7 linked regions of the Homo sapiens genome follow. The protein of the gene in region 6 purifies or fractionates together with the protein of the main gene of each other region. This does not show direct contact. Each region holds a gene or a part of one and is shown on either strand. Other genes may lie near its edges. The genes, in order: DLAT, RPA3, RPRD1A, KANSL3, PUS7L, STAT5B and PDHA1.

The links.
Region 1: the proteins of STAT5B (region 6) and DLAT purify together in Homo sapiens (affinity purification with mass spectrometry; one large-scale study listed by BioGRID and IntAct). This does not show direct contact.
Region 2: the proteins of STAT5B (region 6) and RPA3 purify together in Homo sapiens (affinity purification with mass spectrometry; one large-scale study listed by BioGRID and IntAct). This does not show direct contact.
Region 3: the proteins of STAT5B (region 6) and RPRD1A fractionate together in Homo sapiens (co-fractionation; one large-scale study listed by BioGRID). This does not show direct contact.
Region 4: the proteins of STAT5B (region 6) and KANSL3 purify together in Homo sapiens (affinity purification with mass spectrometry; one large-scale study listed by BioGRID and IntAct). This does not show direct contact.
Region 5: the proteins of STAT5B (region 6) and PUS7L purify together in Homo sapiens (affinity purification with mass spectrometry; one large-scale study listed by BioGRID and IntAct). This does not show direct contact.
Region 7: the proteins of STAT5B (region 6) and PDHA1 purify together in Homo sapiens (affinity purification with mass spectrometry; one large-scale study listed by BioGRID and IntAct). This does not show direct contact.

What each region holds. Positions count from the first base shown.
Region 1 is NC_000011.10:112,031,425-112,035,677, reverse strand, and holds part of DLAT (dihydrolipoyllysine-residue acetyltransferase component of pyruvate dehydrogenase complex, mitochondrial isoform 2 precursor), read right to left. Parts: intron 2,275-4,253; coding exon 2,148-2,274; intron 1-2,147.
Region 2 is NC_000007.14:7,708,326-7,712,578, forward strand, and holds part of RPA3 (replication protein A 14 kDa subunit), read right to left. Parts: intron 1-4,253. UniProt on the Homo sapiens protein: As part of the heterotrimeric replication protein A complex (RPA/RP-A), binds and stabilizes single-stranded DNA intermediates that form during DNA replication or upon DNA stress.
Region 3 is NC_000018.10:36,025,598-36,029,850, forward strand, and holds part of RPRD1A (regulation of nuclear pre-mRNA domain-containing protein 1A), read right to left. Parts: intron 1,714-4,253; coding exon 1,587-1,713; intron 1,479-1,586; coding exon 1,303-1,478; intron 82-1,302; coding exon of another isoform or gene 1-81. UniProt on the Homo sapiens protein: Interacts with phosphorylated C-terminal heptapeptide repeat domain (CTD) of the largest RNA polymerase II subunit POLR2A, and participates in dephosphorylation of the CTD by RPAP2.
Region 4 is NC_000002.12:96,627,761-96,632,013, forward strand, and holds part of KANSL3 (KAT8 regulatory NSL complex subunit 3), read right to left. Parts: intron 3,784-4,253; exon of another isoform or gene 3,723-3,783; coding exon 3,552-3,722; intron 181-3,551; exon of another isoform or gene 162-180; intron 1-161. UniProt on the Homo sapiens protein: Non-catalytic component of the NSL histone acetyltransferase complex, a multiprotein complex that mediates histone H4 acetylation at 'Lys-5'- and 'Lys-8' (H4K5ac and H4K8ac) at transcription start sites and promotes transcription initiation.
Region 5 is NC_000012.12:43,751,931-43,756,183, forward strand, and holds part of PUS7L (pseudouridylate synthase PUS7L), read right to left. Parts: intron 3,332-4,253; coding exon of another isoform or gene 3,316-3,331; coding exon 2,406-3,315; intron 1-2,405. UniProt on the Homo sapiens protein: Pseudouridine synthase that catalyzes pseudouridylation of mRNAs.
Region 6 is NC_000017.11:42,266,154-42,270,406, forward strand, and holds part of STAT5B (signal transducer and activator of transcription 5B), read right to left. Parts: exon of another isoform or gene 2,133-4,253; intron 1-2,132. UniProt on the Homo sapiens protein: Carries out a dual function: signal transduction and activation of transcription. Mediates cellular responses to the cytokine KITLG/SCF and other growth factors. Binds to the GAS element and activates PRL-induced transcription.
Region 7 is NC_000023.11:19,350,266-19,354,262, reverse strand, and holds part of PDHA1 (pyruvate dehydrogenase E1 component subunit alpha, somatic form, mitochondrial isoform 1 precursor), read right to left. Parts: intron 3,004-3,997; coding exon of another isoform or gene 2,983-3,003; coding exon 2,856-2,982; intron 1,182-2,855; coding exon 1,090-1,181; intron 1-1,089. UniProt on the Homo sapiens protein: The pyruvate dehydrogenase complex catalyzes the overall conversion of pyruvate to acetyl-CoA and CO(2), and thereby links the glycolytic pathway to the tricarboxylic cycle.

The sequences.
Region 1 (4,253 bases), on a different chromosome or scaffold from region 6:
ATTTCTACTAAAAATACAAAAATTAGCCGGGCGTAGTGGCATGCACCTGTAGTCCCAGCTACTCAGGAGGCTCAGGCAGGAGAATCGCTTGAACCCAGGAGGCAGAGGTTGTGGTGGGCCGAGATCACGCCACCGCACTCCAGCCTGGACAACAGAGCCAGACTCTGTTTCCAAAAAAAAAAAAAAGAAGTGTTTAAAATGAAAAGGCTCCTGGGCCACAATAGACTTCAAAGTTCAACCAAGGTAACACTTCTCTAGTGACTAGTCTCTATAGTGACACTGGTATTCAAGTTAAATGGTGAAGCAGAACTACTGTTTCCAAAGTTTCTGTGTTTTTAAGAAACAGAATCCTTTCTTCAAATAAAATTTATGGGGAAGCACAAAATACAAAAAGATAGAAAAGAACTGCTCTGCTGGAAGTAAGGCAGGGAGGCAGGGCTGTAAGGTCCTGCTCTTTAATTCCCCCTTTGCCTCAAGGTGCCTTAAAGGAATGATGGGATTTGAAGAACACAATCTGAAAACAACCAAGGCAGAGGATGCCCAGTACCTCCCATTACATCTTTGGGAAAGGCTTCCCTTTGGTGGTGATTATGAAGCAGAGAGGCTGGGTGCGGTGGCTTATGCCTGTAATCCCAGCACTTTGGGAGGCCGAGGCAGGCAGATCACCTGAGGTTAAAGAGCTCGAGACCAGCCTGGCCAACATGGTGAAACTCCATCTCTACTAAAAATGCAAAAAATTAGCCAGGCATGGTGGTGCATGCCTGTAGTCCCAGCTACTCGGGAGGCTGAGGCAGGAGAATTGCTTGAACCCAGGAGGCGGAGGCTGCAGTAAGCCAAGATCGCACCACTGTACTCAAGCCTGGGTGACAGAGCAAAACTCTGTCTCAAAAAAAAAAAAGAAAAAGCGGGGGTGCAGAGAGAAGAAATTCATAATACTACAAATCGCCATGGCTCACGCCTGTAATCCCAGCGCTTTGGGAGGCCAAGACAGGTGGATCACGAGGTCAGGAGATCAAGGCCATCCTGGCTAACACAGTGAAACCCCATCTCTACTAAAAATACAAAAAATTAGCCAGGCGTGGCAGCGGGCACCTGTAGTCCCAGCTACTCGGGAGGCTGAGGCAGGAGAATGGCGTGAACCCAGGAGGTGGAGCTTGCAGTGAGCTGAGACTGCGCCACTGCACTCCAGCCTGGGCAACACAGCGAGACTCCGTCTCAAAAAAAAAAAAAATAATAATAATAAATATATTATTGTCTATATGGGTTTTTTTAGCCTAAAAATGAATTAAGAAGGAGATATGTGGACATATGACATATCTGAACATATATATATTACACACATACATTCTATCAGTCATTCTCAAACTATGAAAACAATCTCAACCCTGGTTTCAGTTTTCCCTCAAAGTCATCTTAAATTCTTTGCTATTATCCTGCCATGGAAGTGATTTTCTCCTGTTTCTTCTTGACTTCCTTTGCCTAGTTTAGACAGCAGCAATTCTGATATAGCTTCTCAGTAACATAATAAGGCCAAGAAGCAAACTTGGGCCTAAAAATAATCTGTGAATTGACAGATTGATTGCCTTTGATTCAGTGAGCACAGGATGGAACTGACAAATCTGACTACGCATTATTTTTGTTATAAATTATGCTGGGCCAGGAACAGGGGCTCACGCTTGGAGTCCCAGCACTTTGAGAGGCCAAGGCAGGAGGATCGCTTGAGCCAGGAGTTCAAAACCAGCCTGGGCAATAAAGTGAGACCCCATCTCTACAAAAAATTTAAAAAATCAGCTAGGTGTGGTGGTTCAGGCCTGTAGTCCTACCTACTTGTGAGGCTAAAGCAGGAGGATCATTTGGGCATAAGCCCAGGAGTTCAAGGCTACAATGAGCTATGATCTTGCCACCGCACTCCAGCCTGGGCAACAGATTAAGACCCTGTCTGAAAAATAAGCAAATAAACAAATAAATAAATAAAAACTAAAGAATACATATAACTAAATAAAAATAAAATATTCTGTCCCAGAAAATGAATCCTAAGAATTATAAAGTTTTCATATTATCACTCACTCATTATAGGAAAGAATGGCAATCCTCTTCCTCATTGGGAAACTCAGTGCCTCAACCATTAAGAGCTGAAGAAATCTCACCTATAGTGGCTTTGTCAGTTTCTATCTCTGCCAGTAAGTCTCCTTCACTTAGCTTCTCACCCACTTTTTTTTCCCATCTCTGAACTGTGCCCATGGTCATGGTGGGAGAGAGGGCAGGAAGAAGTACCTGCAGAAACAAACACATATTATTGCTTAATACCAGGAAGACTTCTACATAATAAAAGTCTGGCAGACTTATGTGGTTTCATAGAATGATGGTGACTATGATAATCCAAATACTCACCACAGCAAAAGCTTCACACCTCAATAGCTTCCCACCAGGTAAATCATCCTTCAAATCTCATACTCTGACCCATACTCTTATACTCTCGCCCACACTCTAACACACACTCCAAGTTAAATGCAACAAGCACATGGGAAAGATTTCTTTCAGACAGTCAAAATTAATTTCTCAACATCTAAGTATGGAGCATCTTTTCATCTATTTTTATTTTTATTTTTATTTTGAGACAGAGTCTTGCTCTGTCCCCCAGGCTGGAGAGCAATGGCGCAATCTCGGCTCACTGCAACCTCCACCTCCTGGTTTCAAGTGATTCTCCTGCCTCAGCCTCCCGAGTAGCTGGATTACAGGCGGGTGCCATCATGCCCACTAATTTTTGTATTTTTGTAGAGATGGGGTTTTACCATGTTGGCCAGGCTGGTCTCTGAACGCCCATCCACAAGTAATCCGCCCGCCCTGGCCTCCCAAAGTGCTGGGATTACAGGCGTGAGCCACCGCGCCCAGACTTCATTTTTTTTTAACCAAGAAGTTTTTCATTTTCACAAAATGACCTTGGTCCAAACCATTCTGTTAAAATTTTACTGCGCTCTGTACTTAGCATCTACCTATTTTTTACCCACAGGAAACTGCATTTGTCCCAACCTTACCAGATATCTTTCCAAGATAAAAACGTAATATTAAGAACTGTTCTGTGCTCGCTTCAGCAACACATATACTAAAATTGGAACGATATAGAGATTAGCATGGCCCCTGCGCAAGGACAACAAATTCGTGAAGCATTCCATATTAAAAAAAAAAACATTATTTGGTGACAATAGTTAATAACAATGTATTGTATTCTTGTAAATTCCTGACAGTAGATTTTTAAGTGGCCTAAAAGATAAGTCTATAAAGTAATGCATATATAAATTAGCTCAATCTAGCCATTCCACAATATATACATATTTCAAAACAACTTGTTGTATATAATATATGTACACAGAATTCTTACACAGAATTTTATTTGATAATTTTTTTTTTTTTTGAGATGGAGTCTTACTCTGTTGCCCAGCCTGGAGTGCAGTGGCATGATGATCATTCAAAAAAATAAAACAGGAGGCCAGGCACAGCTGTTCACATCTGTAATCCCAGCACTTTGGGAGGCCAAGGATCACTTGGGAGGGGCGGATCACTTGAGGCCAGGAGTTCAAGACCAGCCGGGCCATCATGTCGAAACCCCCTCCTCTGCTAAAAATACCAAAATTAGCTGGGCATGGTGACACCCACCTGTAGTCCCAGCTACTCAGGAGGCTGAGGCATGAGAATCGCAGAGGTTGCCGTGAGCCAAGATCGTGCCACTACACTCCAGCCATGGTGACAGAGCAAGACTGTCTCAAAAAAAAAAAAAAAAAAAAAAAAAAAAAACAGGAAAGACCAGCATGGTGGCTCATGCCTATAATCTCAGCATTTTGGTAGGCTGATGCAGGAGGATCACTTGAGCCCAGGAGTTCACGACCAGCCTGAGCAACATGATGTAACCTCATCTCTTAAAAAAAAAAAAAAAAAAAAATTAGCTGGGCATGGTGGCACGTGCCTGTAGTCACAGCGTCTTGGGAGGCTGAGGTGGGAGGATGGCTTGAGCCAGGAGGTCAAGGCTACAGTGAGCTAAGATTGCACCACTGCACTCCAGCCTAGGTGAAGAGTGAGACCCTATCTCAAAAAATAAAATAGCTAGGTGTGGTGGTATGTGCATGTATTCCCAGCTAGTCGGGAGGCTGAGGCAGGAGAATCGCTTGAACCCAGGAGGCAGAGGTTGCAGTGAGCCGAAATCATGCCACTGCACTCCAGCCTAGGTGATGGAGTGAGACCCTGTTTCAAAAAATAAA
Region 2 (4,253 bases), on a different chromosome or scaffold from region 6:
TTGTAGACGAAGGAAGACAAAATTATTGATTGCTCAGCTTTAGTTTTGTAGAGAGATATATATTATAAATTGTTTCTGTATTAAACAGTTACCCAAGTGTCAGTGACCCTTATTCAATCACCCATGTATTTATTAGACAGCATTTACCATTTTGGATATAAGGGGATCAGGTCTAACACTCTGTTAAGAAATTAATAGGATCTTTTACAAAAGCAGCAGTGCTTTATAACTTGAAACATTGAAAGGAAACCTTTAAAAATAAGTCAACATATTTGTCCTTTTGGGACAGACCTCAAAAATAGAAGCAAATTCCATTAAAGTAGTAATATACTTTTCCTACTACTTCGTTTTGGCCATCTTAAAATTATATTTTATAATTAGTAAATAAGCTGATTTGACTGAAACGAGCAACTATGTTTATTGGAGACAGACCCAGCTTTTCAACAGATAGAATGTTAGGACTTTTTTTGCCCATTAATATGTGGTTTAAAGGGAAGTTATAACAAGACACCAAATGCATATGTATATATACAAATACAGGCAGTTGTATGTTTTTAAGAAGTTTTTAACCAGCAAGGGGTGTGTGTTTGTGTTTGTGTGTCTGTGTGTGTGTGAGAGAGAGAGAGGGAGAGAGAGAGAAAGGGAGAGGAAGGGAGAAAGTGTGGGAGGAAAAGAGGAGAGGAGGAGAAGACAGAAGAGGAAAACAGTCCTAACTATTAAAAATACCAATTAACTACTTAATAACACATCTTTCAGTGTCTTGCATAATAATTTCTTAGATATTTTGCAAAATTCGGCATGGTTAAGGGATTTTGTAATGGTTAAATAATTTTATTAGTTGTTTGAAATTGACTGTCTTTGTTTTCCTATCTGTGTGCTGAGATTTATCTCAATTATATGTGTGAATAATGTTATGCATGGGGTTACTTTTAATATGGATTTAACTGAGATTCTAGACTATATTCTTTGTAAATATGAACATTAGAAACTTGTTCAATTGTGGGTCGTCATTAATTCAAGTCAGGAAGGCTCACCCTTTGTCCTCACACCATCTCTTAAGAAGATAAGTCCTGTGGATAAGCTGGAGAGGTCAGATGTTGGTGTTGACTTAAAGCATTGCCACCCGAGGAGGGCAGAATGCTGTAAAACAAAGCAGAAGGAACTGTGTGGAGAGAAGGTGAATGACTGGGGGACTTGAAGTTGAAAGAAAAGTCAGGCGCTGAGCCTGCAAGGGCAAAATGAGGCTTGTGGGATAAGAATGGTTTGTCAGAAGTCACCTGTTTGCTCAGAAGTCATCTTTCCCTAACAAGGGTCTGTTTGGTATGTTCCTGTATTACAATTTATAATAACTGTTTTTTTACCTGCTGAGGGTAAGATCTTTAAAGTGACATCTTACCAGCTATTATTCTTAGCTCTTGCTTATGCAAATCTCAATTTGAAAAATAACCTTTTAAAGTTTTTTTTTTTAAATAATGAGAACATATTCAGAATGACAATGTGATGAACACCTGTGTACCCACCAATTGGTTTAAGAAATATAATTTCTTGTTAACCTTGAAGTTCTCTAAGTCTTCTCCTTACTCCCACCTCAGAGGTAAATTCCACTCTTTAAATTCTGCTTTTTTGGGGTCTCTTTTTAAATAGTGTTAACATATTTTTCATATGTGTAGTTTTGTATGTTTTACAACCATATATAAATCGAGTCACTCACAATGTATGTACAATATGTTCTTCAGCAATTTGCCTCTCTCACTCAGTATCATGTATCTGGTCTCATCTATATTGCTCTATGTATCTTTAGTTCTTTCATTTTTATTTGACATTCCATTGATGAATATACCACAATTTATATATCTGTTCTGATGATGAACATTTGGGGTTTTGTTTTGTTTTCCTAAAAACAGTGCTGTTACTGAACATTAGTAGGCAGAAGAAAAAACAAAACACCTTGATCTGTGTCTCACACTTTATGCAAAAATTGCCCAAAATGAAAGGACTAGTCCCTAGAATAAGTACTTGCAAAACTCAGCAGTAAAAAACAAAAAACAAAAAAACATAAAACCAAATTAGAAAATGGGCAAAAGACATGAAGAGACATTTCACTGAAGAGGATATACATATGGCAAATAAGCACATGAATAAGTGTCATTAGCCATAATGCAAATTAAAACCATAATGATAGGTCTCTACAAACCTGTATCAGAATAGCTAAAATAAATAGTAATAACACCAAATGCTGGTAAGGATGAAGAGAATCTGGATCACTTATTGATGATAGGAATGTAAAATGGTACAATTACTCTGGAAAATAGACAGTTTCTGAAAAGCTGAATATGCAGTTACTATACGACTCAGCAATTACACTTTGGGCATTTATCCCAGAGAAATTGAAGACGTATATGTGCATAAAACTGAGTATTTATAGCAATTTTATTCATAATAGACCCAAACTGGATACACACCAAATATCCTTCAACAGGTGAATGGTTAAATCTATGGTATATCTATATCATGGAATAATACTCAGCAAGAAGAAGTAACAAACTGTTGATATATACAACAACCTGGATGAATCTCCAGAGAATTATGCTGAGTGAAAAGAGCCAATCCCTAAAGGTAACGTACTGTATGACTTCATTTATGTAGCATTCTTGAAATGACCAAACTGTACACAAAAAATAGAGAAATCATTGGTCGCCGGTGGGTAAGGATGGGGTGAAAGTTAGAGGCAAGTGTGTGTGGCTATAGAAGGATAACACTGGGGATTCTGGTGGTTATGGAGATGTTCTGTATCTGGTCTGTGTGAATGAAATATCCTGGTTGTGGTATTGAACTATAGTTTTGCAAGATGTTGCCATTGTGGTAAACCAGGTAGAAGCTACATGGGATATTTCCATATAATTTCTCCAATCTGCCTGTGAATCTAGAATTATCTGAAAAAGTTCAATTAAAAGACAACATGATGCTGTTACAAACATCCTTGTACATGTCTCCTGGTGCACATATGTGAGCTTTCCTCTAGATTTTATTTCCGGGAGGAATTACAGGCTATGCACATGTTAACTTTAGTAAATCATGGCAAATTTTTTTCCCAAGTGGTATATGAAAATTCTATCCTTTTCATATTATACTCTATCCTTTTTAAGGATATTGTACTTCAAGGATATTATACTCTATCCTTTTTAACATGTAATACTGTGAGACTTAAATTTTTATCAGTCTGTTGGTTAGAAAATGGTATCTTGTGTTTTTAATTTACATTTTCTTGTTTATAATGGAATTGGACATTTTTATTTATGTTTAATAGTCATATGTGGTTTTTTTGCTCAGTAAAATCACTATTGATCTCTTTTCCCTGCTGTATTGTCTGTCATTTAAAAAGTTGATTCTAAGGGGATCTAGTTACAAATTTTGTTGCATTTTAATGACTTATGTTTTTCTTTTTATCTGTTAATGAAGAGACATTTTGATGTGACAGTTTTAAAATATATAAAACTTTTCCTTAACTTTCATATTTCAGTCTGATTTAAAAAGTCCCTTCTTGGAGATCAGAAAGTCATCTTCCTATAGCATCTTCTTATAGCTCTATGGTTAACTTTGGTTATAGTGTGGTATAGCGATCCGATTTTAATTTTTTTTTGTAGGGATAACCTATTTTCTTAGTACTATTTTGGATTAATTCATCTTCTTTTCTTCACGTATCTTCCAAGCTTACTCTTACATATATAGTATCTTTGGTTCTCCTACTTTATGAGGCTATTTTTCTCTCTCTTAGCCAATGTCATAAAGCTCATTATATTACCATCCTTTAAAACCATCTCAACCTTCCTTTGTTCTCTGCTTTTCTATATAATGAAGCATCAGTTGATCTTATGCCAAATAAATAAAAAATGAATAACAGATGGATAATCACTCAAACCTACCCACTCTGATGTGATTTTTGTTGAAATTTTATTGAACATATAGATTAATTTAGGGGAGAATTGCTATATTTACAATATTTAGTCTTCTTCAGAAATATATTTCTGTCCATTTGCTTAGGTTTCCTTAATACATTTTTGTAAAATTGCCATGCATTTTTCATAAAAATCACATTTCTGCTTTTGTCAGATTTATTCTTAGAGTGCTTTTTTGTTTTATTATTATAGTAAATATTTTTAAAGTTGTATTTTCTGTTTGTTGCCAGCATAGAAACATGTAGCTGATACTTGTAGCAACCATCTTGATAAAATATTTACTTCCCATAATTCATC
Region 3 (4,253 bases), on a different chromosome or scaffold from region 6:
TCAGGGTTTGATATTTATTTTTAGCAGGAAGAATATACTAATGGTGACGACATCGTTAGAAGATACGCCCATGTCCAATATCTGCAACAGAAGCTCAATAGAAGTTAAAGAAACCATACTAAAAGACTAAAGACAAAAATTGTATGACATTACTTACCCTTAATTCTGTGGACAATAAAACAATTAACACTATGTTTAAAATTGAGGTTTCATCACAAGGTGAAATAGTGGCAAGTTAATTATCAAATTCATCTTTTAAAAAAAAAAACCATCTTTTCCTTTCCATGTAGAAGTGGGCAACCTCTTCAAAGGTATAGTGGCCACCAACTATCATCATCTGAGGGTATTTATACGAGCAGAGAAGGAGTAAATTGCAAAGGAGTAGTGCTAACTTGAGAGCTGGGAATTTGAGGTGGGAATAATTAAGTAGCAGCTCCCATGGGTAGCAATGGCAATCTAATCTAAGCACCATTTTTGGCACAATTAGAGACTGCTGAATCAATAACTAAACACTAATAAAAATAACTTAATGGGGTAGTACCATGACATTCCTACAAATTTACAGTGAGCTTTCTGTAAATAAAGGGATTCAAATTAGAAATTCTCCTACATATTATTACAATAAGAAATTGCCACAGCAATACAATTTAAACAAGAACTCATCAACTGAAAGATTTTTTTTACATAAAACCAAATCTGGCTCATGTATCCCTAACAATTGCTACTCTAATCAAAGGAAATACGAGCATTTTTTAAAATCACCTCCTGTACTCCCAGATTTCTCATTAGCGGTATTAATTATTACTTAATTTACAGGAGCAATGAATTTCTGCCTAAGAGTGTGAGCCGGGAGTGGGGCTGGAACATGTAAGCATTAGAATTGGCGGGTGGAATTAAGGGAGTAATTTAAAGACTTAATGGTATACCTAAAAGACTACATCTTCTCAAAACAGAAACTAAATAAATCCTACTACAAGTGACTGCCACCTGCTATTTTCCTATTATTTCTGTGATACATTAGGGTTAAACTGGTAAGATAAATTATAGTTGCATGGAATTTCACAAGAATAATTTTTAAATGCAATCAATTTTGCTAATTCCAAATTTCTAAGTTTACTTGCAAGATTAATTTGGTTCAAGTAGAAGAAAAACCATTAATACAAGGAGAAGCTTACCTGGGCTACTGCTTAAAAAGGTCTATGTTAAAAAATGCAAAATGTGCACATAGATTAAAATATTTTAAAATTCCTAACAAAAAGAGAATTAAATAAATAAGCACTAAAGAAGAAAAAGGTTACGCACTTCCAATTTATGCTCTTTCTCTGCAAGGGCTTCCTTTTGACAACGAAGAAAATCTGCTAACATTCGAGTGAGTTGCTTTCTATCATCTATTTCTGCCGCCAATCTGCCATTGTAATCTGCCAGCAACATACACGCATCCTCTACCATTTTGGAAAGCCTTTCTCCAGATTCTTTATCTAAGAAAAGCACGGGATAATAAAATATTATACAACAAAAACAATGACATATGCTGTTCTCTCATCCCAACTCCCAAAAAAGTTCTGGATCACATTTTCTTTTCTTACCTGTTATTTTATCTAATAGAGATACTTCTTGGACTTCAACAGGTAAAGAAGCTATCCTCTGATGAACTGCTGCATCACCTGAGGCTGCATTTTCCAGATCTTGTAATGCTCTAACGAGATCTAGAGTCTAAAAAGTACACAACTTCAGAACCAAAATAAATTGAGCTTAAACAAGTGCAAAAGACTTTAATTTCATATTCTTTCATCCCTATGGGCTATTTACTAGTACAAAGCTCCTAATATAAACTGCTTTTGAAGACAATCAATTTCTTTCATATGTTAAGAAAAAAGGAGGCTATACTATGTTAGGTGTTGAAAATATAAACAGGACAAGGCCCTAGACCTTGAAGAGAGCTTACTCCAGTGGTGGAGACAGAGTAATAATAATTATTTGAGTACTAAAATGAGGTAATGAGGATTTATATGGCAAATACATCAGTGGTGAAAGAGAAGGTAGGCTATAACATCAACCTAGAGAATACAAGTTTTATGTATGATATATTCATTACATTATCATTGTACACTAGAAGTTTTTTTAGTATTAAATTGGATATTATGGAAAGAGGGTTACAAATCATCTACTACAACACAGAAGAGTCTCCCAGATTTCATTTCTAAATGCTGTAATTAAAGCCCAAGAGAAATGTAGTTCTAGAATATGTTCAAATATGATATCTTCAAGTATCCTATGGCTTGTTAATAAGATTAAAATATTTCAAAATTCCATAATCTGATGACTAATATATATTGCTTAACCAGTACTGAAATTATTTTATCATTAAAATATTTTACTTCCACTGTTTTCATACAAGCTATAATTAGGAGGGAAGCGCAACTCTTTGCTGGTGATTTCACAACTCATAATGTCTATAAAGTTATTCCAAAGAAAAACAATTAAATTTTATTTTTACTAGTTTCCATTCTCCAGCCCATCTTTTTCATCTTTCTTTCTTAATTTCTAATACTAGATTCAGAAACACTAGGAAATTACACATATGCTTTAAAAAATATAGGATATTAGTAATTCTGTGTATATATTAAGATTTTTAAACTATTCCCTTGAAAAAAAGGGTAGCACATGACAAATGATCAAATGTGGTAGGAATGAATGAAACTAATAAGAAATATACTATCCTACGTGTGCTCACTCATTAGAAGTGTTTAAAATTTCAGTATTTTAAAAAATAATTTTGTTGTAAGATATATCCCCTCTACAATTAAGGTGTGCTTAAGAGTAACAACAATTACCAGAAAGCTTGTTTCTCATCTTGCCACAACTAATATATTATTTTTAAAATCATTCTTAGAAAATTCTAATTGTCTGGAGTTCTAAGAAGAAATCTGGCTTTATTGTCTTGGCAATGCATTGATGCTTTAATTACAACCTGATCTCATCACACCTTCACAGTCCTACATGAGTACATTCTAAGTTCCCAATGCCTGATCAAGCATCAGATAAGAAAGCAAAGTTGTCTGAAACAATACTAAGCCTACTACTTCCTACCAGAGGAGAATGAAATGAGTTTAACGGGAACCTACAAAGAGATTTTAGCCATTCTTATAAAGAATAACACACACACAAAAATGAAGACCACAAAGCTGAACCATTGATAATTAAGCAGCACAACTAATCTAAAAAACGATCATTATAAAACAAAGAGCAACAGCATTTTACACAAGTACTAGAGGAGAGGCAGATGATTACTTAAAAATACTCCTAAGATATGCAACTGTGGTTACCCTTTCATCAGGGAGAGCGGAAGGAGACCAGATCCTTTATCTAGAACTTAGGTAAAACACTGTTCATAGAATCATGAGGCTCTTAGCCAAAAATGATTTTCTGTCATGAGTTATTACCAAATAGGAAGAGACATAAATCTTAGTGTTTGGTTGTTCCAAATGTAACATTCTTATCACTTTTCTATTCAAGCTCTTGTCCATAGTGGCCAATGGGCTTCAGCATTCCTATCACTGAACAAACAGGTAGGCTGACTCAGGTCGTGGCCTTGGTCTGATTCCTTCTGCTTCTCCAGTACTGAGACTAATATAAATCCACAGTTACAGGTAGTAATTGATTGTATTTTTCTTTCACCTTCATGGGGGAAAGAGCTCCTCCCAGCCTCTGATTTTATTCAGTGAATTTGGAACCAGTCCTCTAACTCCCACGGAGCACTGTGAGTTCCTGTTGCCCTTGTGAGTTCCTGTGACCTTAAAGGATACTAATTTCTGGCAACCCCATGTCTGCTTCGGGACCAGGGCTCAGCAGGAGCCAGGTTTTGTCTCACCTATGAAGTTAGGTGTACAATTTCTAACCCATGAAAATACATTCGCCTTGTTTTAAGAGTATGGTTATGTCTTCATTTTCTCATTTTACACTTTATCTGTCCCGCCTACATGTTTGAAACATAGAAGGAGGAAGCTTAAAGACTCAATGCCCACTTAAAAAAAAAAAAAAAAAAAAGTCTTTCTGGAATTAATCTGATGGTTAAGGAATACCATACCATACCAACATGTAGGAGGACACAGAGTGTTAAGATAATAATTCTAACTTATTTTTCCACAGAATTACATAGTTCTATATAGTTACAAAGAAATGTATGAACACATATATATCACTCTAACACTACTTTTTTTTTTTTTGAGACGGAGTCTCGCTCTGTCACCCAG
Region 4 (4,253 bases), on a different chromosome or scaffold from region 6:
GGAAAGAATGGCAACACGATGATTATAATCAGAGCAGAAGGAACTGCAAGCTCCAAACAGGCTACAGATTCAGGGACAGGGTCATAAAATGGTGGTATCTGAAACTGAAACTAATAAGTTATCATAAATAATAAAATCGGCTATGTACAAAAGTTACCTACCAAAAGAGATGGTGTGTAAGCCTGCTGCCAATGAGAGAAGGCCTCCAAAATCTCATCAGACACTAAGAAAACAAATAATCTGATAAATTGAGCTTTAATGGATTACATCAATCTGTGGCAATGTGGCAATGTCATAACAGAAGGGTGGTGGTCCACAAGGAGACTGGAGAAAGATAAGCCAAAGACAAGAATCTGTCAGTGTTTCTCTAAAGGACAGGCAGGAGAAGGTGCACACTGGCCTATTCCGTGGACTCATCTTGCCTAGAGGAAAGATGTGTACATCCAGCTATTCTGCTGTGCCTCCTGTGTAGACTCTCCACTCATCTATTCACTTCTGAAATAAAATGGTTTTCCAGACTTTCCTGCTGAGAACAGACACTCTGGCCAGGCCACCCCAGTGTCTCTTATGCTTTGCAGTTATATCTCTCCTTATAAATTAAGAAACTCAGCCAAGTGCAGTGGCTCACACCTATAATCCTAGCACTTTGGGAGGCAAAGGTGGGCAGACCACTTGAGCCAGGAGTTTGAGACCAGCCTAGGCAACATGGTGAAACCCAATCTCTACAAAAACTACAAAAATTAAGAAATGGTGACGTACTCCTGTAGTCCCAGCTACTTGGGAGGTTAAGGTTCCCACCCGGGAGAATCACCTGAGTCCTGGAGGTCAAGGCTTGTAGTGAGCTGAGATCGTGCCACTGCACTGCAGTCTGGGTGACAGAGTGAGACCCTGTCTCAAAAAAAAGAAAAAAGAAACAAACTGGTATTTATAGTATTATTAAGTCTCTAATGACTTTGATAAGTATGAATTGTCCACAAAAACCTCTTAATCATAACCATGGATAAACTGACAAAAAAAAAAAAAATCACACAGTTCTCCTATGTACTTTCTGAAATTGCAAAGGACAAGGTAGTAGAAAATACCACAAAGGGATACATAACCATACCAGGCCACCTTGTTCAGCCACCACTAACTGGTCTTAATCTCTTCTTACTGCCCTTAATTAAGGCAGAGGGTATGGTAGTTGAGAACACTGGGTTCTGGAGTCAGGCTGCTTGGTTTGAACAAAATCCTTCTCCATCACTTCCTAATTAAGGTTTCTTAAACACCCTGAGCTCAGTTTCTTCATCCTGTTGAGCAGAGATGAAGGGGGGATATACCTCCAAGAGTCATTGGGAGGATTAAGAGACAATGCATTTGAAGAGACATTGATACAATGTCTGGCACCTAGAAAGCACTCAACAAACGGTAGCTCCTTTTTGTTATTACCATCGTCGTTATTTTTTATTATTAACTGTAAAAATAGTGATAAATCCTTTTGCTGAATATACTGACTCTAGCAATATTCCAGTAGTTGATCTTCATTCGTAGCAGTTTTCTTCTTTATCTGAAGCTCAAAAGAGCTTTTTTTTCTTTTTTTGAGATGGTGTTTCACTCTTGGTGCCCAGACTGGAGTGCAATGGCACGATCTCGGCTCACCACAACCTCCGCCTCCCAGGTTCAAGTGATTCTCCTGCCTCAGCCTCCCGAGTAGCTGGGATTACAGGCATGCGCCACCACACCCAGCTAATTTTGTATTTTTAGCAGAGACAGAGTTTCTCCATGTTGGTCAGGCTGGTCTTGAACTCCCGACCTCAGGTGATCCACCCGCCTCAACCTCCCAAAGTACTGGGATTACAGGCGTGAGAAAAGAGCTTCTTAAGGCACTAAATTAATTCCAATGCAAGACCCCAACCAACTTCTTCACAAGCTTTTTCAACCAAGGTGCAGAACTGCTCCTCCCTCAACAGCTGCTGTTTTGATCACACAAGCACACCTGTTCAATCTCATTCCCAACTTCCAACCAGCTTCAGAAGTCATGTCAATCACCTCAAACTTTCTACCCCTCTTTCTCTCTATTATAAAATAAGGGTTCTCCAAAATTATGGAAAGTTACCACCTACCAACTCCTGATATAAGAAGTAACATTTCCTTATATATATAGTAGATATATGGATACACAGACAAAAAGCCATCAACAAAATATAAGTTGAAACCACAATGAGATGCCACTTTACACGCAGTAGAATGGTTATAATTTTTTTAAAAAAGAAGAAAATCAGTAAGTGTTGGCAAGGATATGGAGAAACTAGAACTCTCATACACTGCTGGTAGGAATGTAAAATGGTACAGCCACTTTGGAAAACAGTCTGGCAATTCCTCAAAGGTTAAATACAGAGTTATCATATGACCCAACAAGTCCACTCCCAGGTATATAACTAAGAGAATTAAAAACTTAGATCCACACAAAAACTTGTATGCAAATGTTCATAATAGCATTATTCACAATTGCCAAAAAATGAAAACAATCTAAATATCTATCAACTGATTAATGAATAAATAAAATGTGGGCTATCCATACAATGTAATGTCATTTGGCAATAAAAAGCATGAAGTGCTGATACACGCAACCACATGGATAAACCTTGAAAACATCATGCTGGGTGAAAGAAGCCAGTAGGAAAAGACCACATATTGCATGATTCCATTTATATGAAATGTCCAGAATAGGCAAATCTATAAAGACAAAAGTCAATTAGTGCTTCCTAGGGACCAGAGAAGCTGGGAGGAAACGGGAAGTAACTGTTTATGGGTAAGAGGTTTCTTTTTAGGATGATGAAAATGTTTATCAAATTGATAGTGGTGATGAATATACAACTCTGACTATACTAAAAACCAATGACTGTACATATTAAATAGCTGAATTGTATGGTATGTAAATAATATCCCCAAAAAGCTGTTATGTAATTAGGTAAATGTTTACCAAATGAACAGGGACAAATAACCAGGAGAGGAGTGCTGAGTCCCCTGGGGGCAGTAGAAAGCTTGGGAACAAAACTAGCCAGTATACTCGTGAAAATAGGCTTCAGTGTGCCCTCCATAGCCTGCAAATCTATTTTTAAAAGCCACTCAAACATCTGTTAGCTTTTCATGTGACTTCACAACTTCCATCATCCTAGTTATAAACCATTTAAACACAATATCTTACAAATGTACATTTCATTTTTTTGCAGTTTGGGTAACCCCTATATCATAACTTATACAACAGAAGCTACTACAGAGCTAGTCATATGTATCAAATTTAATTCACTTATTTATTCAACAAACATTATATGCCTACTGTGTGCCAGACAACGTCCTAGTGTGAAGTATGCAAAGATGGCTGAGATGTAAGCCCTACTCTCAAGGAGCTCACACACAGCATGGTGAACTGAGAGTTATAATGTGAGACTTTGGAGAACACTCTGACTTGTGTTGCTGCAAATGAAATAAGGTCCTAATAAGTGTTATTTCAATGAAGATGATACAAAATAATTACAGGGCAGTGATCATCCTCCTGATGAGCAGCCTACCTGTTGACATGCTCCTCCCAGTCCTCTGGTGGAGGAGGGGCATCTGCATCAGTCCTGGCAAAGATGACATGCCGTTCACACTCATTCATCACGCTGCGTGCCTTCTGATTGTCATAGAGTGGCATAGGCGTTGATGTGACCGTCTCCACATCTATTGGGACGTCTGATTCACTGTAAACAGGTGAGGAAATAGGACCGGGCCACACATACTTCACAGGTATTTAACAATCATCTGGTTGACAAAAAATGTATCTTTAATACAGTCAGCTTTAAATTACGCATAAGCACATTATATTCACAAGAAAATTTTGATCCAAAGTCATCTTTCCCACACTTGTCTAGATCTCTGCCCTCTCAGACATGATGGTATGTACTGGAAGAACACAAAGTCATTTTTTCAATGAGTCTATATAAAAAATGATAAACATCTATTTTTTTTTTAAGATAAATATGGGCCAGGTGCACTGGCTCACACCTGTAATACCACCACTTTGGGAAGCCGAGGCAGGTGGATTGCTTGAACTCAGGAGTTCAAGACCAGCCTGGGCAACATGAGGAAACCCTGTCTCTACCAAAAATACAAAAATTAGCTGGGCATGTGGCACACACCTGTGATCCCAGCTACTAAGGAGGCTAAGGTGGGAGGACTGCTGGAACCCGGGAAGTCAAGGCTGCAGTGAGCCATGATTGCATCACTGCACT
Region 5 (4,253 bases), on a different chromosome or scaffold from region 6:
TTTGCATTTCTCTGATGGCCAGTGATGATGAGCATTTTTTCATGTGTCTGTTGGCTGCATAAATGTCTGCTTTTGAGAAGTGTCTGTTCATATCCTTTGCCCACTTTTTGATGGGGTTGTTTTTTTCTTGTAAATTTGTTTGAGTTCTTTGTAGATTCTGGATATTAGCCCTTTGTCAGATGAGTAGATTGCAAAAATTTTCTTCCATTCTGTAGGTTGCCTGTTCACTCTGATGGGCTGCAGTTATTTAAAAGCCTGAAAGAAACTGGAGGATCCATTCCCAAAGGGGCTCATTTACGTGGCTGGAAGGTTGGTACTGGCTGTTGGCATGAAGCTCTAGTTCCTGTCCAAAGGGCTGTTTTGAGTATCCTCACAGCATAGCAGCTGGCTTTCCCCAGAGTGAGCAATCCAAGAACATGACAAGAAGTGTAATACTTTTATGACCTAGCCTCAGAAGTCACCTCACATCCACATTCTCCCTCAAATTCTTTCCAAGTTCCAAGGCTGAATGCTTACAAAGTAAATATCACGTGTGCTTTACTGACCATTATATCCCATCCACTGGCAGACAAATGGGTAAGCAAAATGTGGCATACACCTACCATGGGGTATTATTCAGCCTTAAAAGGGAAGGAAATTCTAACACATGCTACAACATAGATGAATCTCGACAACATACTAAGTGAAATAAGCCCATTACAAAAAGACAAATACTGTATGATTCCACTTATATGAGACACCTAGAGTTGTCTAATCCATAGAGACAGAATGAAAAATGGTGGTTCCCATTTTTCAGAACTGGAGAGGAGGAAGAATTGTTTAATAAATATGGAGTTTTAGTTTGGGATGGTGAAAAAATTCTGGAGATGAATGGTGGTGAGGGATGTACAACCATGTGACTGTCCTCAATGCCACTGATACTTAAAAATGGTTAAGATGGTACATTTTATGTTATGTATATTTTAATGTAATTTAAAATTAAAAATAAAAGGTTTTTTGAACCATCATTCCTCCTTTTAACATATGCCTCCAACTATTCACAACTTTAGAAAAGTGAATTTAAACTAATATATAAAGTTCTATAATTTTTTTACTCATTAACCCAAATTAATATTGTTAGAATTTCAAGTAGTATAAGATAAATAAGAATTCCTAGAGCTGCTTAAATCACTCACCAGCAATTCCTCTTTCTACAAGTAAAGCTAGTATTGTTTTTCCTTCAAAATGGATATATCTGTTAACACTTACTATATGCCTAATATTAAGTAACTATTACATAGTAAACAATTTCATTATTTCATTTAATCCTTCGAATATCATTGTGAGTCAGGCTTTCCTATTACCCTATTTTTCAAGTACAACCAAAAGTTATGAATTATTAAGTAACTTGCCCAAGGTATTATTCTTCCCATTTTTACATTTGTGAAATCAAATCTTAAACATGTTAAAAATTTCATAAGTCTTTTTGTGAACTAAAAGTCATAATATCAAATCAAACCCACATAGTTCCAAGGTCCAAACTCTTTTCATTTGCACCTGTAGTCCCTACATGGCACCATCCTATTTCTGTGTCACTGTGCAAATTTAGGTTCCTGGTTTTATCTTAAAATATCTTGCTAAATAAATTTATTAAATATGATCATCTGAAACAGTTCCCATCCTTCAAGTAGAATTGAGGCCAATTAAACCTAGTCAGCTGGACTTTTACAGTGAGAGTTCATCAGTTCCAGCCACCATGGGAATTAAACACAGACCCTAAAACAGTGATTCTCAAAACATAGCAGACCAGGAAAAAACACTGCCTGGAAATCTGTGAAAGCCCCAGAATCAGAAACTGAGAATGGAGCTCTGAAATCTGTTTTAACAAGAACTTTTGATGATTATATGCATGCTAAAGTTTCAGAACATCTTGTCTAAAGACCAGCAGGACCAAGTTTTCAGGTTCCCTACCTTGGGTAGGGAAATATAATTTGTTTTGGATTACAGAGTATCTCTTCACTTTCCCAAGCACAGTAAATATATTCTTCTAGTCTCTAAAAACTTAATTTTAATTGAGATGACTTCCAAAATATGAAATCAAGATTTACCTTCAATAAAACTTATTAAACACGAACCAACTGCTTCAACTTTATACATTTGTGAATAGGCTAATATAAATGCCTAGGTTATCAGTAAGGCTAATTTTTAAATTCAGTGTAATTTAAAAGGTTTTATCATCTTCTAGTAAGTAACAGAATAAATAAGAATTCCTAGAGTTGCTTAAATTGCTTATCAGCAATTCCTCTCCCTAAAGGTAAATCATATATTCTTTCCAATCTCTCTAGCCAAGTCTGTTCAATTCATTTTCACAATTTTAAATTTAGCTAAGCTTATCCAAGAAAATGGATGATGATTTATTAAATTACCTGTATATATAACTTTTCCTTCTTGGCATTCAGAAAGAGGCCTTTTCCCACGTTTGTGTGCTTTTTCCCGAAATCTTACTGTTACCACCACATTCGGATTACCAGCACTGCAATTCATTTTAGAAAAAGATTTGGTTTCCACAAGGTTTCCAAACTTTTTGTTGACAAAATGGTGGACAGCTTTTCTGTGGTCTTTGTTTGTATCAGGTTTAAAGGTAAATTTGGAATTTTCTTTCTTTGCATCCAAATATTTAAAAAAGTCAAATGCTTCCTCTTCAGATACCAAATGACAAAGTTCTTTATATTCAAGATTTGGTTTTACAACAATTTCACTGTTTTTTCCTACAGTTACTAAAAATGGAAATTTCTGCCTAATGGCACTGTGTAAACTAGCCCTCTGGTTTTTGTCAAGGATTCTGCCTATTGAGAATTCAGGAGGTAGTCCAATTAGCTCTGTTTTAGAAAGCCACTTCTCTCTTACATCACAGGCAAAATTATTCAGTAACTCATGAGTTTTTTCATCCAAAAAGGAGCTTAAAACATCAGCTTTTTCTTCACATTTGGAAGTTCCATCAACGATAGTATCTTCCTTTTCTGAACCAGACTGATGATTTTGGTCACCATCAGTGTACTTAATCAAAGTATGAACTTCTTGGTTTCTTCCATCTTCTAAGGACAGATTTTGAAGATCTAGTTTTGGTTTTTTGGGAAAATTATTTGGCTCAAGTTGTATTTCACTAATCTTGAAAATAGGCTCATCGATGGTCTTATTAACTAACTGTCCCTGTTCATCAATTTCAATAACAATAAAGTCACTTGGTGAGCTTTTTATAGTGCCATGAAATCCAACGTGATCATTAAAGAAACACAAAGAACTAAACCTGATTCTATAATCTGTATCTTCTTCCATTCTTCTATAACAGTGCCTAGAAAACAAAACAAAGAGGTGGTTAGTTAACAGAAAGAGAAGTTATGGATGACCAAATAGGAATAGGTTTGCAGGATTTAGTTAATTCTGTCTCTCTTTTAATTCTGAGTCTTCTTAAATGGTATCATTAACTTAATTTATAACTATATGTACTTCCTGTGTACTTTGACTCTCCTATACCAAGCTGAATTAATAGGCAAACTATTTCTGGTATAGCTAAAGATTTGTTAACTTGTATCTTCACTCACTCCAGATTTGTACCTATTATCCAGGATTAAAATGAGTCAATTTTATCTTAAAAATATCATTTGTAGGCTCACAAGAAGAGGTGAGAACACAGGACTATAAAACAAAGATTTGTCCAAATTCCATTCCTGGAGCCTAAAATTTCCAGCTAATTCCAGAGAACATGTGGCTAAGTTTTCTTATATTATTAGTGGTTAGTGACAGGAGAGGTGACAAAAAGACAATAGGAAAACTGATGGGTAAATGAAGTTCTAAATACAAATTTGTGATTTGATTATATTTCAAGGTAGGATTAAGTCAGTCCTGGGCCTTCTCTAATGCCCCCATTAGGACAAATAGAAGCTTTCAAGGTTGAGCCAGAGGAAAGTTCTAACTATATCATTGGCATCAGACAGAAGAAACCCTTACAGAGCTTCCTGGAAACACTATGCAAGAGAATAGTACTCTGATCTCTCACTTTTCACACAAACCCATGGCTACCATACCATATGGAGCTGCAGGAAAGATAAATTGCCCAGGGGCCCCATACTAGTGAGTTCTGTGTTTCCCCCACATTCTCCAAGTAACTTATCATCATCTGGACCATCATCTCATACCTATAATGTATTCTACTAATCTGAACCAATTTAGCAAATCACACCTTCTCAATCCTTTCCATCATGCCATATAGAAAT
Region 6 (4,253 bases):
TCCTGTTCAAATTTACCAATAAAACTGGAATGTAATGTTAAGTTCTGTGCAAACTAGACCTCTTCACATTTGGGTAATAAAAATTCAAAACTAGCCAGGCTCAGGGGCTCACACCTGCAGTCCCATCTACTCTGGAGGCTGAGGTGGGAGGATCACTTGAGCTCAGGACTTTGAGACCAGCCCGGGCAACATAGTGAGACCCCACTCTTTAAAAAATAATAATAATAAATTAAAATAATAAATAAAATTCAAAACCATAAATTTTGAGAATATCACATTTTTGGACAAAATTTTAAATGTGTGTCTAAAGTAATACGTTTTCTTACTTAAGGACCCACTCCTGGCACACTTCACTCATCCTGGGCAACAGAGCAAGACACTGTCTCAAAAAATAAAAAAAAAAAAAAAAAAATCATTCCCTTAAAATTATATGCTTTTTGGCCCGGTGCAGTGACTCATTCCTGTAATCCCAATACTGTGGAAGGTTGAGGTGGGAGGTGTGGAGGTGGAGGTGGGAGGGATCACCTGGAGACATAGCAAGACCCCTGTCTCTATTTTTTTTTAACTATGTGCATTTTTCTGGTATTGCAAAGTCAAGGGATCTTGCCTCATCACCAACTCAGCATGTGAATTGTAGCCATGCCACTCAGGAAGCCAAATATTTTCTATTTTGTTTTGATACCTTCAACATGAGGAGAAAGGCCAATCTCTTCATACATTACAATGAAATTAGTATTTTTACTTGATATTTAAACTCACTGCAAGATAAACTCATTTGTAAAACATGACTACACTCAGAGTTTCCATATATGTAGTCAGGCACCACATAATGACGTTTCAGTCAATGACAGACCACATATATCACTGTGGTCCCATAAGATAATAAAACGTAGCTGAAAAATTCCTATCCTCTAGTGACGCTGTAGCCATCATAATGTTGTAATGCAATGCATGACTCACATGTTTGTGGCAATGCTGGTGTAAACAAACCCACTGCACTGCCAGTCATGTGAAAGTCTAGCACATACAATTGCGTGCAGTACATACTTGATAATGATAATAAATGCCTATGTTACTGGTTTATGTATTTACCATACTTTTTATCGTTATTTTAGAGTGTACTCCTTCTACTTAAAAAAAAAAGTTAACTGTAAAACAGCCTCAGGCAGGTCCTTCAGGAGGCATTGTTATCACAAGAGATGACAGCTCCATATGTGTTACTGCCCCTGAAGACCTTTCAGTGGAACAAGATGTGGAGGTGCAAGACAGTGATACTGATGACCCTGACCCTGTGTAGGCCTAGACTAATGTGTGTGTTTATGCCTTCACTTTTAAGAAAAAGTTTTTAAAGTTTTGAAAAATTAAAAAGTTTTTAAAGTTTTGAAAAATTAAAAATTATTTAAAAAGAGAAAAAGTAAAAGAATAAAAACATAAAGAAAATATTGTTGCACAGCTGTACATGTTTATGTGTTAAGCTAAGTGTTACTACAAAAGAGTTTAAAAGTGTAAAAAAGTAAACAGTTGGCCGGGCACGGCGGCTCACACCTATAATCCGAGCACTTTGGGAGGTCAAAGTGGGTGGATCACCTGAGGTCAGAAGTTTGAGACCAGCCTGGCCAACATGGTGAAACCCCGTCTCTACTAAAAATACAAAAATTAGCCAGGCGTGGTGGCACACGCCTGTAATCCCAGCTATTCGGGAGGCTGAGGAAGGAGAATTGCTTGAACCGGGAGGTAGAGGTTGCAGTGATCCGAGATCACGCCACTGCACTCCAGCCTGGGCCACAAGAGCAAGACTCCATCTCAAAAAAAAAAAAAAAAAGTAAAAAGTTTACAAAGTAAAAGTATTACAGTAGGCTAAGGTTATTATTGAAGAAAGAAACAATTTTCAAAATACATTTAATGTAGCCTAACCAGACAGTATTTTTAAAATCTACAGTAATGTACAGTAATGTCCTAGGCCTTCACATTCACTCACCATTCACCCACTGAGTTGCCCAGAGCAACTTCCAGTCCTGCAAGCTCCATTCCTGTTAAGTACCCTATATAGATGTACCATTTTTTATCCTTTATGCCATGTTTTTACTGTAACTTTTCTATATTTAGATATGTTTAGATACACAAATACTTACCCTTGTGTTACAATTGTCTACAGTACTCAATACAGTATACATGTTCCACAGGTTTGTAGTCTAGGAGCAATAGGCTTTATCATACAGCCTAGGTGTGCAGTAGGGCTCACCATCTACGTTTGTGTAAGTACCCTCTATGATGGTACCACAATGACAAAATCGCCTAATGCATTTCTTAGAACTTTGTCACCATGTATCATTAAGTGACAAACGACTATAGTTACGTAACAATAACCAAAGAAAAATACAAAAAGAGGGACTATTTACATTGTATCCTTACATATTAAACCTTCCATGCCTTCGGAATAAGAATCTAGTATCCAGTTCTCACTATACATAGCTTTCCCTCACTTTCTATCAGAAATGAGATAGGAGTCCCACCTTCCTGGCATCAGAAACAGATCACCAATCCTGCAAACAAATTCACAGGGTGAACTGTTTCATTTTTAAAGAGCTGTAGATTTCTGTAGATCTCTAATTTGCTACTTTTCCTAAACCTAAAAGATGACCAAAAGATTTTTAGAAACATTAAACAAAAAAACAGAATTAGCATTATTTCTAACAGAACATTTTACCTATTTAAATATACTGTAGAATGAATGCTATATTACAAAGCTGATGAATTCCAATTTTTAGTACTTTAAGAGATCAAGTGTTCAAGTTTCTTTTTATATAGGCTACAATGACATGTATGAATGTAACTTAACATTTAGCCCAGGTTAGATTTTTTAAAATCCCACTCCTTCAAAAACAGTGACTTGCCACCAGCTATAGGCTCTGAATTTATTTAATTTATTTATTTTTTTGAGATGGAGTCTCGCTCCGTCTCCCAGGCTGGAGCACAGTAGTGCGATCTCGGCTCACTGTAACCTCTGCCTCCTGGGTTCAAGTGATTCTTCTGCCTCAGCCTCCTGAGTAGCTGGGATTACAGGCGTGCACCACCACACCTGGCTAATTTTTGTATTTTTAGTAGAGACAGGGTTTCACCATGTTGGCCAGGCTGGTCTCCAACTCCTGACCTCACGTGATCCGCTTGCCTCGGCCTCCCAAATTGTTAGGATTACAGGCGTGAGCCACTGGGCCCGACCTAGGCTCTGAATTTTAGACAACAAAAAATAGTTTCTCACAAACTTTTTAACTTACTCTCACCTAAAGGCTGGAAAACCCCAGTGAAGGCTTTTAAAACTCATCAGACATAGAAAAAAAGAAGCAGCTTTAATTGTAGGATCTCACTGACACAAACATAAGGAAATTCTGAGTTATAGATACCTCACATTAAGCTTTTTCCACTGACATTGTAACTTCTGTCAACATTCAAAGAAAATTCAACCCTGGTCAAAGGTGACAGTTGACAATCCTGGAAGCTAACATCCTCTGTTTATTTGAACAAGTTTATACTCTGCACAGGGAATTGAAGTTCTTCTTGTCTGTGACTTGATCTCCCAAAGTTAAAGCACTACGCTTTAGGGTTGTGAATTCTGTTTCCAAGACTTAACTTCACAATCCACTCCCAAGGAAAAGTGCTGAGAGAAAGTAAGCATCATAAATGAAAAAAAAAAAAAAATCTGAGACTATTTTCTAATGGCCTTTGCAGAGCTCTAGACATACAATAGTTCAGTTGCCTTAAAAATTCGCCCAAATAGGCTGGGCATGGTGGCTTATGCCTGTAATCCCAGCACTTCGGAAGGCCAAGGCAGGAGGATCACCTGAGGTCAGGAGTTCGAGACCAGCCTGGCCAACATGTCAAAACCCCGTCTCTACTAAAAATACAAAAATTAGCTGGGCATGGTGGCACATGCCTGTAGTCCTAGCTACTCCGGAGGCTGGGCAGGAGAATCTCTTGAACCCAGGAGACGGAGGTTGCAGTGAGCCAAGATCGCGCCACTGCATTCCAGCCTGGGTGACAGAGCGAGGCTCTGTCTCAAGAAATAATAATAATAAATTAGCCCAAATAAGTAAAATTCTTAAATCTGTCTCAGAAATCATGACTAATGCTCTAAAAAGCTTTAATGCAACAAGAATAGGACAGAAATCCCCGCAAAATAAAGTTGTAAATAAAATGAGTGGGATTGTTGAGTTCTCAGTACAGACGTGCATGTCAACACAAACCCACTACATTGG
Region 7 (3,997 bases), on a different chromosome or scaffold from region 6:
TTTCTGCATTCAAGAGTTAAAAAATAAAACCTGGCCGGGCGTGGTGGCTCACGCCTGTAATCCCAGCACTTTGGGCAGATCACGAGGTCCACAGATCGAGACCATCCTGGACAAGATGGTGAAACCCCGTCTCTACTAAAAATACAAAAAATGGTTGGGCATGGTGGCACGTAACTATATTCCCAGCTACTCGGGAGGCTGAGGCAGGAGAATTGCTTGAACCCGGGGGTGGAGGTTGCAGTGAGCTGAGATTACACCACTGCTCCAGCCTGGGCGGCTGAGCAAGACTCCATTTCAAAAGGAAAAATAAAACCTAGGTTTAAAAAAAAACAACACATAATAGAATCTTAATATATTAGAAAGGAAAAGAAACAGTCCGGATATAATTTTGTGCTGTTAATTCTTCATCATTCACTAACTGATGAGAACAAGGACCCCAAAATGAAGTTGACAAGATAAAGCAATTAATGTACTGAAATATAAATAGGAAGGGGAAGGTATGGCTCCACTGCTAGAGGTTCCTGCTTACTTATAAAACAGCAGACACCTAAAAGGAAACATTATAAATCACCATCCAAATCTACTCATCTCTCAAACGGTAGGATATGAAGCACTAGGTCTTTAAAAGCAAACCAAGCCCCCAAAATAGTCACGCGTCACTTAACAACAGGGATATATTCTCAGAATTGCATCACTAGGCGATTTTGTCATGTGAACACCATACTGTAATGCACGAACCTAGATGGTACAGCCCACTGCACACCTAGGCTGTATAGTAGAGCCTACTGCTCCTAGGCTACAACCCTGCACAGCATGTGACTCTACTGAATCCTGTAGGCAAAATATTTGTGTACCTAAACGTAGAAAAGGTAATGTGTTGTGCCACTACAACATCACTAGGCGACAGGAATTTTTCAGCTCCATTATAATCTTATGGGTCCAACATCATATATGCGACATTGACCAAAGCGTCACTGTGCAGCACATGGCTGTACTACTTCAGGAAAAGTTGTCTGGGGCTGTGAAAGTTTTTGAAGACAAAGTCCAGGGCCAAATCTAAAGCAGCACACAATCCTCGTCCTTGACTACCTGCGCTCCCACGATGCCATTGCCCCCGTAGAAGTTCTTGGCATACATGTGCATCGATCCTCCTTTCCCTTTAGCACAACCTCCTTTTCGTCCTGGAAATGGCAGAACATACACATGTGCAGAACAAACCAACTCTACAAAGCAAACCAAACCGCACCCCAAATATGTACTCTGAGGCTCAACCATTAGAACACAGAGGCCAGTTCAGTCGTCTAAGTACCTGTCCCTCCAGGCAAACACATGTTTCTCCTTGTCCTTTCACTAGTTCCATGTGCTTCAACCTTTCCAGCTTTTCCTACTCTCTAGTCACTTAGTTTCCTTCAGATGTTCCATCCAGATGATACCCTGGACTTTTCTGGGTTTTCTGGCCAGTTACAAACATCTTAGGACCTCTCCTATACTAGTACACTAAATATATTCAATCCTTGAACAGGGTTTGAACTGCACAGGTACACTTATACACAGATTTTTTTTCAGCCACACATGTATTGAAAATAGAATATTCTCAGGATGCAAACCCGAAGATATGGAAGGCTGACTTTGGGACTTGAGTATTTGAGGATTTTTGTATACTCGAGGGTCCTAGAACCAATCCCCTGGATATATAGAGGGACAACCATAGTTCAAGAGTCAAGGAGGGCCGGGCACGGCGGCTCACGCCTGTAATCCTAACATTTTGGGAGGCCGAAGAGGGTGGATCACCTGAGGTCAAGAGTTCAAGACCAGCCTGGCCAACATGGTGAAACCTGGTCTCTACTAAAAATACAGAAATTAGCCAGGTGTGGTGGTTGGGCACCTATAATCCTAGCTACTCAGGAGGCTGAGGCAGGAGAATTGCTTGAACCCGGGGGGCGGAGGCTGCAGTGAGCCAAAATCATACCACTTCACTCCAGCCACTCCAGCCTGGGTGAAAGAGTGAAACTCTGTCTCAAAAAAAAAAAAAAAAAAGGAGGAGGAGGAGGACCGGGCACAGTGGCTCACGCCTGTAATCCTAGCATTTTGGGAGGCTGAGGCAGGCCACTGCACTCCAGCCTGGGCAACAAAGCGAGACTCTGTCTCAAAAAAACAAAACAGGCCAGGTGCGGTGGCTCACGCCTGTAACCCCAGCACACTTTGGGAGGCCAAGGCAGGTGGATCACCTGAGGTCAGGAGTTGGAGACCAGCCTGGCCAACATGTTGAAACCCCATCTCTACTAAAAATACAAAAATTAGCCAGGTGTGGTGGTGCATGCCTGTAGTCCCAGCTACTCAGGAGGTGGAGGCATGAGAATCACTTGAACCCGGGAGGTGGAGGTTGCAGTGAGCCGTGATCACACCACTGCACACCAGCCTGGACAACGGAGTGAGACACAGTCTCAAAAAAAAAAAAAAAAAAAAACCACCAAAACAAACAAATAGTCACGGGGGACAAAGAAAAGGGGAATATTAAGAAGATTTCTAGAATTTACATTGCATACCATGGAGTGCTTCAACCGAACTTACTTTCTATGACTGCTAGACTTCTTCTGGCATGCTTGAATGATAACCAAACCTACTGTGATTTTATAGCACCAACCTGTTTTAAACTTTTACCTGAGGGGCCAGAGAACTTCACAAATGGTCAGTTAACTCAAGAGCACAACAGAAGTACCAGAGCACCAAAGGAGAGAGGGTTAAAAAAAGAAACTTAAAATTTTTAACAAATATTAACTCATAATAGCATCTTAATGACAGATATTTAAAAACTTAATCCACTCATTTCCCCTTTCTGTAAATCAACAGCAAACCTGTAAGCTCTGCGAGAATTTCTCGGACGGAAAGGCCCCGGGTGAAAGTAAAGCCGTGAGCCCGGTAGGCTGTGATGAGATGGTCTGTGGGGTTGATGCCGGCCTCCAGGCCCACACAGCAAGCTTCCTGTGTTAGAGGAAGGAGAAACTATGAGGCAATATGATACATGTTTCTAAATAAAAACGTTTCCTAGACCACAGTGAAATATGTGGGCTAGTAGAACCTGTCATTAATAACCAGAGAAAGTAGCTATTTTCCACCAAAATACAGAGTGGAAGGCCCAAACCAGAAGCAATAAACTGGCAACCCACACATGTGCCACTTCCTTCCTTTCTCCTGTATGATGACCTAAAAGAAAAGCCTACATCAGATGTCAACATTAAAACACTGGGGAATTTCACATGAAAATCCAGACTTCCGCCTTCTCTTAGACATGGAAAACAGGAAACATTACCCCTGATTTCCACATGGCACCAACTGGCTGGAACCAAGTCATGGCATTCCTCTGGGTAGGGCATGCTGGTGCCAGTTCAGCATGAGTCCCTGTCACCATTTTCTGTTTTGTATACCTAGCCTTCTTCACTCATTTATTCTACCTGGCTGGCCCTTGTAGGTATTTGACTCTAACCCTTGACCTAAGCCCACAAAACAAAAAACAAACTAATCCTTTCTCTCCAAATTATATACAGTACAGGCGATCATAGTGCCAGAAAGTTTTAAAATAGTAAAACTCTAAGAACAGGTACAGAAAACTGGCAATGTTATGTGTGAATGAATTCTTTAGCCTAAGCTTCATAGCAGGTTTTGGCATTCTACTTTTTAATTCTAAAATACTGGCTTCAGCCAGGCACAGTGGCTCACGCCTGTAATCCTAGCACCTTGGGAGGCCAAGGTGGGCGGACCACTTGAGCCCAGAAGTTTGAGACTAGCCTGGGCAACATAGTGAAACCCCGTATCTCCAAAAAATACAAAAATTAGCTGGGTGTGTTGGTGTGCACCTGTGGTCCCACATACTCGGGAGGCTGAGGTGGGAGGATTGCTTGAGCCCAGTGGACAGAGGCTGCAGTGAGCCAAGATCACACTGTACTCTAACCAGAGGCTGCAGTGAGCCAAGATCACCACTGTACTCTAACCTGGGCGA